Regions from separate parts of the Homo sapiens genome. Here region 2 is linked to region 1. Evidence: fine-mapped expression QTL. A gene starts in region 1. The other region holds a variant in brackets. All regions are shown on one strand. Distances are from middle to middle. Region 1 holds the start of SEPTIN4 (septin 4). Region 2 overlaps SEPTIN4 (septin 4).

Region 1 (4,388 bases):
CTCACACCTGTAATCCCAGCACTTTAGGAAGCCGAGGTGGGTAGATTATCTGAGGTCAGGAGTTTGACACGAGCCTAACTAACATGGTGAAACCCCATCTCTACTAAAAAAAAGAAAATCAGCTAGGCATGGTGGTATGCGCCTGTAATCCCAGCTACTCGGGAGGCTGAGGCAGGAGAATCACTTGAACCCGGGAGGCAGAGGTTGCAGTGAGCCAAGATCACGCCACTGCACTGCAGCCTGGGCAACAGCCTGGGCACAGTTTATTTGAAACTCCATCTCAAATAAAAAAAAAAAAAGAAAAATGAAGCTGACCATCCTATAATCTCAATGACCCTTCAGAGTTCATAATAGAATTTTGGATATGGTAGAGTCTATGTCTAAAAGAGAGAATGAGAGAAAGAGCATGTGAAAGGGAGAGAAAGGTGACAGAGTCTCCTCCAAAATGGTCATCCAAATTGGAAAGTCACTTTTCAAGAGAGAACCGGAGTCCGGCTGATTGGATAGCTGACAGGATCATGAGAAAGGACATTAACATTTGTTGTGTGACACCCATGTACCAGGCAGTGGTTTCCAGGTGAAGAAACCAAGTCCCAGGGAAGGCAGGTAATTTCTCCTAGGTACACCTGTAGTCATTTATGATGGAAACCAATGATTAACTCCAAATTCCTTCTTTCTTTCTTTCTTTCTTTTTTTTTTTTTTTTTTGAGATGGAGTCTTGCTCTGTCACCCAGCCTGGAGTGCAGTGGCACGATCTCAGCTCACTGCAGCCTCCGCCTCCCAGGTTCCAGCGATTCTCGTGCCTCAGCCTCACGGGTAGCTGGGATTACAGGCACGCACCACCACGCCTGGCTAATATTTGTATTTTTAGTAGAGATGGGGTTTCACCATGTTGGCCAGGCTGGTCTCAAACTCCTGACCTCAGGTGATCCACCCGCCTCAGCCTCCCAAAGTGCTGGGATTACAGGTGTGAGCCACTGCACCCAGCCCAAATCCCTTTTATTTTGTTTTTATTTATATATATTTTTTGAGATGGAGTTTTGCTCTTGTCACCCAGGCTGGAGTAAAGTGGCACAATCTCAGCTCACTGCAACCTCCAACTCCCGGGTTCAAGCGATTCTCCTGCCTCAGCCTCCTGAGTAGCTGGGATTATAGGTGCCTGCCACTATGCCTGGCTAATTTTTTTGTATTTTTAGTAAAGACGGGGTTTTATCATGCTGGCCATGCTGGCCTCAAACTCCTGACCTCAGGCAATCCACCCGCCTCGGTCTCCCAAAGTGCTGGGATTACAGGCGTGAGCCACCGCACATGGCAAATCCCTTTTATTAATAAAACACTAAACTCTCCTGGAGCAAGAATGTGAGAATTTTATTATTTGAGCAACCTGGATTTTTACCCCAGGAGCAATGAAACAATCCATGAGACCTGGAAAAAGCTGAAGCTCTCTTTTTTTTTTTTTTTTTAACTTGTATACAGTACAGTTTCAAACAAAATTGGGGCAACTTTGTACTTCGTACCTTATTAAAACTGGGGCGAACACAGCGTGTTTGGTTTGATCTTGTCTTCATAGGATCTTCTGGCTGATTCCTTCTCTGGATGAGTCCTGAGAATTTCTAGAATCTCGGGAGAGTAAAGGAGGGTCTGGAGCCTTCTCTATGTACAAGGAAATCCCAGTTTTGTTAAAAACTTGCCAAAGGCTTGGTGATATAACTCCAAAGACAAATCCACAGATTCCTTTCAGGTACTTCTTTGGGATTCTGTGAAGAATTGTGGCTGTACACTAGGATGTTTAATAGGAAGGAAGCTCCTTCCTTTATGACATCACCAGACAGAGAGGTAGCTAAGGGGATTATTTGAGACACTCTTAGAACAACAGCCACTTTTGTGGGAGCCCAAGAAACAGCAGCTTTAAAACAGGGTAAATATTCAGGCATCATTAGGATCCTGAATACAAGCCAGCCAGTAAAATACGGGATCTACTCAGAAGGGCACAATCTATCAGATGGTCAAGACAAATAAACCTGGGGCCAAGGTAGCGGTTTCAGCACAGAGAGGGTCTGAGGTTACTACTAACACATCCCCTCAGCAGGGACATGGGTACGTTCTTGCCTCAAGCCATCGAAGTGCTGCAGTCTCCCTGAACCCTTCCCACCGAAGATCAGAAGCTGCACATCCCACCACTCCCCATTCAGCATCAGACTACCCTCGATCTGTCTCCCTCCAGTCAGGACCTGGACACTATGCAGTACCCACTCCTCGGGGACCCGAGACTGGACCAAGAACAGAATCATCCCGCCATTCCTCTCCCCATCTAAAGAGCCAGAAGACTCAGACACTGGCTTCCCATGCTTCAAGCAGACAATGGAAAGTTAGTCCACCCAGAGAGGAAGCAGCACGAAGAGGCAGTGAGAGCAAGTCAGGGCGCGAGGTCGGCCATCATGCTTCATCAATCCCAGATGCCAAATCTACTCATCAGTTGAGTTTTCAAGACCAGAAGAATAACTTACAATCACAAATCTTAGAAGATGACCCACCATCCAAGGTCCAGAACCCCCAAGGAGTCAGAGTTCCCCGTAGGATTTTGTCTTACCCAAAGGATGAAGCAGTACAAACTGAGCCCATCCAAAGAATTACGACTACTAGTGAGATCAGATCTCCAAGGAGTCCCTCTCTCCTAGAGCACGGAAGCAGCTGTGTCTCTGCAGACTATCAGACAGCCCAGAGAAGGGTCCCTGTAGAAGAATCAGAAACAGGTCCTTACGGTCCAATTCCTTCAAAACCCAAGGCCTTGTATAGGAATATGAACTTGGACTCATTGCTCAAACTCTCTGTCCTTAAAGATTCTGATGGTGTACACCGAGTTTCTGCACGGGTAGACCCTGAGTCTCTTCATAAGTATTCTGCCTATCCTGAAACCAAGCCCTCCGCAAAGGTCTTAGTATCATCACAGGTGGAGTCCAACGTGAGGACCCCAATCCGAGGAAACAGCGAGGTTGGCCGCAGGGTCACCATCTCCCCAGGGGTACAGTCAGTAGAGCCAACTCACCATGTGACAGTTCCATCAGTGTCTGAGGGCTCCCACAAGTCATCCATGTTTGTTACTCCAGAGCCCATCTATAAACAGCAAACCCAAAAACCCCCAGAAATTACTTACATGTCCCAAGGACCTACACCCAGGTATCCAGAACTCTCGCAAAAGCCCTCCATCCATGCAGAACTGGAACTGACCCCTAGGCCCTTGCCTCCTCGGTCCTTACCTAGGTACGGACCTGACTCCTCATGGTGGCCCTTGCTGAATCCTGAAGTTGAAACACCCCAAAGCCAGCTGACAACACCGGATTTTGAGCCTAAGTGCTCTCCTTCCCTAGATCTTTTATTGTCCGGTTTTAAAATAGACTCTAGCCCTTTCTGTGAGGATCTGAAGTTCCAGAGAGAGAAGGCAAGCCTATCACCACCATCACCACCAAAGGAGTTTCCAAGTTGGGCACCACTGAGTGAAGTGCCACAGACCCCCAAGCACACCTGCAAACAACCCATTCAAAGGTTTACTGCTTTCTTCCTGGGTATGTGAAGAAGCAGACTGCCCAGGTGCAGCCCCAATTTAGTGAGATGGGATGTTGGGGTGGGCAGGAAAGACCACCTCTTCATTCTGGGCCTAAGGGCTGCTCTCCTGCCAGTGCCAAAGCTAGTCCTATCCTTGAGCCTATTGCTCCATTCCTTCCCTGCCAGCTTCTCTGTGCTCCAAGCTAATGACATTGATGATGGATGCTTGGGCCGGGCGACAGGCATTGACTCCTCCAGGCAACACTGCTTACCTTTTTAATTGAAGGTAGTAGAGAGGGGCTTGCAGGGTTGAAAGCTGCTTCCTGAGTGGGGATGAAGAACTGAGCTGGGGTGAGGGCTGGCAAGGGCTGTTAAATAGAATAAGGGCCTCAGGTAAATACTCTGGCTACAAAGTGGAGAGGGTGGGATGCAGATGAGCTGGGATTCCAGGAGGGGAAAGGCATTCACAGTGGCACAGAGAGAGGGTGTAAAAAAGAGAAAGGGAGAGTGGGAATACGATATATAGTCCTAGGCTGGAGGAGCTTCTTGGAGAGGACCAAGGGCTGAGGGCACCTTTGAGTGGAGAAATGTGGAGCTAGAAAGGGAGCTGCAAGTAGTGGAGAGTGGGATGTGCATCCCACAGAGAGAAGAAAAGCAACCATCTCTCTGTTACTTTCAGATGTCTCTGAGGAAATGTACAATCGTGTCATCTGGTGGCTAAAAGGTCTGTGCTTTTCCCTCCTATGGGCCCACTGTGGGAGCTTGGGGGATGGGAGGACAGGTGAGGAGTGGCATCTATGTATCTACAGAGCTGGGTCGTTTAGGAGATAAATGCTGGGATTTTG
Region 2 (4,388 bases), 21 kb after region 1:
GGTTGGGGTGGGCGGTTCATCCTGACTGGGCAGGTCCCTGCCCTTGCCCTGGCCTCAGTTTCCCCTTTCTCCAGAGAGGATCATGCAAACTGTGGAGATCACTAAGCATGCAGTGGACATAGAAGAGAAGGGTGTGAGGCTGCGGCTCACCATTGTGGACACACCAGGTTTTGGGGATGCAGTCAACAACACAGAGTGGTATGTCTGAGTAAGCACAATCCCAGCTGCCCCTGAGCCACCCTTCTCCATACACAGGTACACACGTAGGCCCAGATATATCCATACTTATCAGGAGGAAGCGGTCTATGACCTTGAGCATGTGACTTCCCTTACTGGACAGCCATCTCCTCCTTTATAAAGTAAGAGGGAAAGGATTGGAATAGATGATTTTTAATGTTCCTTCCAATTCTGCCCTATGATTCTATAATGGGGTAGGGACATAAGAAAGAAGAGGCTGAGGCGGAAGTATCACTTGAGGCCAGGAGTTCAAGGCCAGCCTGGGCAACATAGTAAGATCCCATCTCTACAAAAAGTTTTAAAAATTAGCTGGGCATGGTGGCATAGGCCTGTAGTCTCAGCTACTGGGGAGGGTGAGGCAGGAGAATCACTTGAGCTCAGGAGGTTGAGGCTGCAGTGAGCCATGATTGCACTACTGCACTATAGCCTAGAAGACAAAGCGAAACCTTCCAAAAAAAAAAAAAAAAAGATAAGAAAGAAGAGCCTTAAAAACAAACACATGTGAAGTGTGAAAACATGTAGCACAGAGTTGATTACATAGTAGATGCCGAATAAACTGTCACCCTTTTTCCTTTCACTAGCAACATTTTAGGTGCCGCACACAATCTTGTTGAAGGGCTGGGCATGTATGGAGGGAGGGTAAAGGTGAGGAAGAATAGGCAAAAGGGAAAAATGGTGGAACTTTGTTTAAACTCCAGGCACCCTCTAGGCTACCTGCCGAAAGAAAAGCTGGATTTACCACAACCCCCTATCATTCGGGCTTTTTTATTTTTCAGGCACTGGAGGGACCCCCCTCCAGCTAATGGTCAGTAGGTCTGACCGTTACCTCCAGCTTAGGTAATGGTCAGACCTAAGTGAGTAGATGAAGAGGGAAATGGATGAGATTGACAGGAGAAAAGGTGGTAGCTTTGATGAAGAAGTTAGGCAGGCAGTGCTAAGAGCCCTAGACAGAGAGTTCAAATCTTGATTGGCATTTAGTAACTTCATGATCTTGAGCAAATGATCTCCTTCAATCAATTTACCTACTGTCTCTTACCTTCCATAATACTAATAATTTCATTTGCCAGGCACCTCACAGTTTAAAGTGTACCTCCATATATATTCATTTTGTCAGACACTTATTTAATTAAAATATACCAGCCCTTACCACCTCTCCAATTGATTTGAACATCACCCAACATGATGCATGCGCACTGAAAAGTGTAAAGGGCTATTTACAGCATACTCAGGAATTTTAACAATGGTAATTGCAGGACCAGCAACATAATTTGTTGGGCCCAGTGCAAATGAAAATGTAGGGCCCCGTGTTCAAAATTTTTAAGAATTTCAACATGGCAACGGCAGAGCATCAAATCAGCTAGAATGTGAGCACATACTAGATGTCCAGCCTGTGGTGGACATTTTAAGGGATTCAGAACAAGCATGAATGATTCCTATCCCTGAGAGGCTTATAGTCAAGTGGCAACAGGGAAGCAGGGGAGGTGGGGGCAGTTCTCTAACATGTTTCAATCAGATAGCAACTTAAATTAGTAAATGGGTCAGGCAATGTGTAGTGGCAAGTGCACTGAGCTGTAGGGGTTCAGGTGGGTAGAGAATTTACTAGCTAAATGACCTACAGAAAGTCCTTTTCCTTTCCCTCTCCTTCCTCCTTTCTTTTTTTTTTTTTTTTGAGACTGGTTCTCACTCTGTTGCCCAGGCTAGAGTGCAGTGGCCTGATCAACCACCTCCCGGGGCTCCCCGGGCTCAGGTTATCTTCCCACCTCAACCTCCCAAGTAGCTGGTACTACAGGTGTATGCCACCACACCAAGCTAACTTTTTTGTATTTTTTGTAGAGATGGGGGTCTCGCTATGTTGCCCAGTCTGGTCTTGAACTCCTGGGCTCAAGTGATCAGCCTACCTTGGCCTCCT[A/G]AAGTGCTAGGATTACAGGCGTGAACTACCACACCTGGCCTGGAGCAAATCTGTTAGCTGCTCTGGATTTAGTTTCTTCATGTATGAAATGAGAGTGATGATGATCATAATGCATAATGTCCACCTGTCAGGGCAGTGAGGATTAAACAAGATAATAGAAGAGCAAAGGATATGAAAATTGAGGTTCTTGGGGAAATTTATTTATTTATTTGTTTTGCTTTGTAGTGAAGAGAAGGGGAGAGCAGTGTGTATTGGTATAGTCAAAGGAGACTTCGTGGAAGAGATGGTTCTTAGGGCCTTGAAGGATGGAGTGGGTTTGGAGAGGTAGAGGAAAGGGTAGAAACACATGAGCAAAGAGGCTCTGAGGTTACACTGGAAACCTGACTTAGGGTTTCCCTGGCTTCCAGTTGGTATTTGCCTGCAGCCACCTTGCTATTCTTTTTTTCTTCTTCTTCTTCTTTTTTTTTTTTTTTTTGTGACAGTCTGGCTCCATCACCCAGGCTGGAGTGGTATGATCTTGGCTCACTGCAACCTCTGCCTCCTGGGTTCAAGTGATTCTCCTGCCTCGGACTCCTGAGTAGCTGGGACTACTCAGGTGCACACCACCACGCCCAGCTAATTTTTGTATTTTTAGTGGAGACAGGGTTTCACCATGTTGGTCAGGGTGGTCTCAAACTCCTGACCTTAAGTGATCCACCCGCCTCGGCCTCCCAAAGTGTTGGGATTACAGGGGTAAGCCACCGTGCCCAGCCTATTCTTACTGCTTTGTTTGATCACCTGGGCCCTTTCCCTCTCATCAAGCTAGTATTTATTAAACTTGCCTGAGTACTCAGTCTAATTTTGTATCAGGACATGTGAGATACACCCCACCCCATTCAGGAATTTCTCTAAAGATTTAGTAAAGCAAGCCAGGGAATAACAGTGTCTTAAAAACACTGCTCAGGGAGTGGGCTACTTCTCTGTAGTCCCAGAGCTCACTAGGTGGCTCCCACTCTCACAGTTTCTCTGCTTGTCTGTCCCTGCCCCAGCTGGAAGCCTGTGGCAGAATACATTGATCAGCAGTTTGAGCAGTATTTCCGAGACGAGAGTGGCCTGAACCGAAAGAACATCCAAGACAACAGGGTGCACTGCTGCCTGTACTTCATCTCACCCTTCGGCCATGGGTATGGTCCAAGCCTGAGGCTCCTGGCACCACCGGGTGCTGTCAAGGGAACAGGCCAAGAGCACCAGGGGCAGGGCTGCCACTAGCAGGTGGTCACAGGTTCCTGTTCCCCAGGCTCCGGCCATTGGATGTTGAATTCATGAAGGCCCTGCATCAGCGGGTCAACATCGTGCCTATCCTGGCTAAGGCAGACACACTGACACCTCCCGAAGTGGACCACAAGAAACGCAAAGTGAGGGAAGCTGGTGGTGGGAGGGGATCAGGTGGGCTTCTAGAAAGGATGTGGTCCCCAGAACTGTGGGCCCCTCATCTGTTTGTCAGATCCGGGAGGAGATTGAGCATTTTGGAATCAAGATCTATCAATTCCCAGACTGTGACTCTGATGAGGATGAGGACTTCAAATTGCAGGACCAAGCCCTAAAGGTGGGGCCACTCTAGGGCATCCCATTCCTATCTTATTTCTTCCGGGTAGAAAAAGGGAGTAGAATTCTATATTCAGGCTATCAGGGTGGGAAAGGACCCTGGCTTCCTAGAATGAAGCAGAGAAGATGACGATACAGGTGGAAAGAAAGAGGTGAGAACAGAGGGTGCTGACAGGCACCCCTAACCTCTTCCAGGAAAGCATCCCATTTGCAGTAATTGGCAGCAACACTGTAGTAGAGGCCAGAGGGCGGCGAGTTCGGGGTCGACTCTACCCCTGGGGCATCGTGGAAGGTAAAGCACTGAGCCTGTGACCAGGGTATCTCCTTGCCCTCAGTGGCTCTCCCCTACCTATGCCTCTGGCTGACCCCTAGCCTTGCTATGCAGTGGAAAACCCAGGGCACTGCGACTTTGTGAAGCTGAGGACAATGCTGGTACGTACCCACATGCAGGACCTGAAGGATGTGACACGGGAGACACATTATGAGAACTACCGGGCACAGTGCATCCAGAGCATGACCCGCCTGGTGGTGAAGGAACGGAATCGCAAGTATGACCAGAAGCCAGGACAAAGCTGGCAGGGGGAGATCCCAAGCCTAGCCTTGGGTGAGACCAAGCCCTACTTTTGTTCTTCTATAGGCCCTGGGCTCAATCTAAGCG

Evidence for each region. PIP is the estimated chance that this variant, and not a neighbour inherited with it, causes the effect. A credible set is the group of variants that fine-mapping cannot tell apart.
Region 2: its variant is the best candidate, but not a certain one, in a credible set for the expression of SEPTIN4 in whole blood (TOPMed, PIP 0.50).

Annotation. Positions count from the first base shown.
Region 1 is chr17:58,541,801-58,546,188 of GRCh38, reverse strand. SEPTIN4 (septin 4) reads left to right here and starts at 1,861. Exons shown (of 14, transcript NM_001368771.2): 1 at 1,861-3,563; 2 at 4,223-4,267. The coding sequence starts at 2,003. It overlaps SEPTIN4-AS1 (SEPTIN4 antisense RNA 1), which reads right to left. Exons shown (of 5, transcript NR_110810.1): 3 at 2,591-2,732; 4 at 1,518-1,653.
Region 2 is chr17:58,520,888-58,525,275 of GRCh38, reverse strand. It overlaps SEPTIN4 (septin 4), which reads left to right. Exons shown (of 14, transcript NM_001368771.2): 7 at 75-198; 8 at 3,175-3,309; 9 at 3,423-3,540; 10 at 3,630-3,731; 11 at 3,926-4,022; 12 at 4,116-4,278. All of the region lies in intron 1 of SEPTIN4-AS1 (SEPTIN4 antisense RNA 1), which reads right to left. Among named protein-coding and RNA genes, the nearest start is that of SEPTIN4-AS1, 3.2 kb to the right of the region's middle. The variant A/G (reference allele first, on the strand shown) is at 2,147.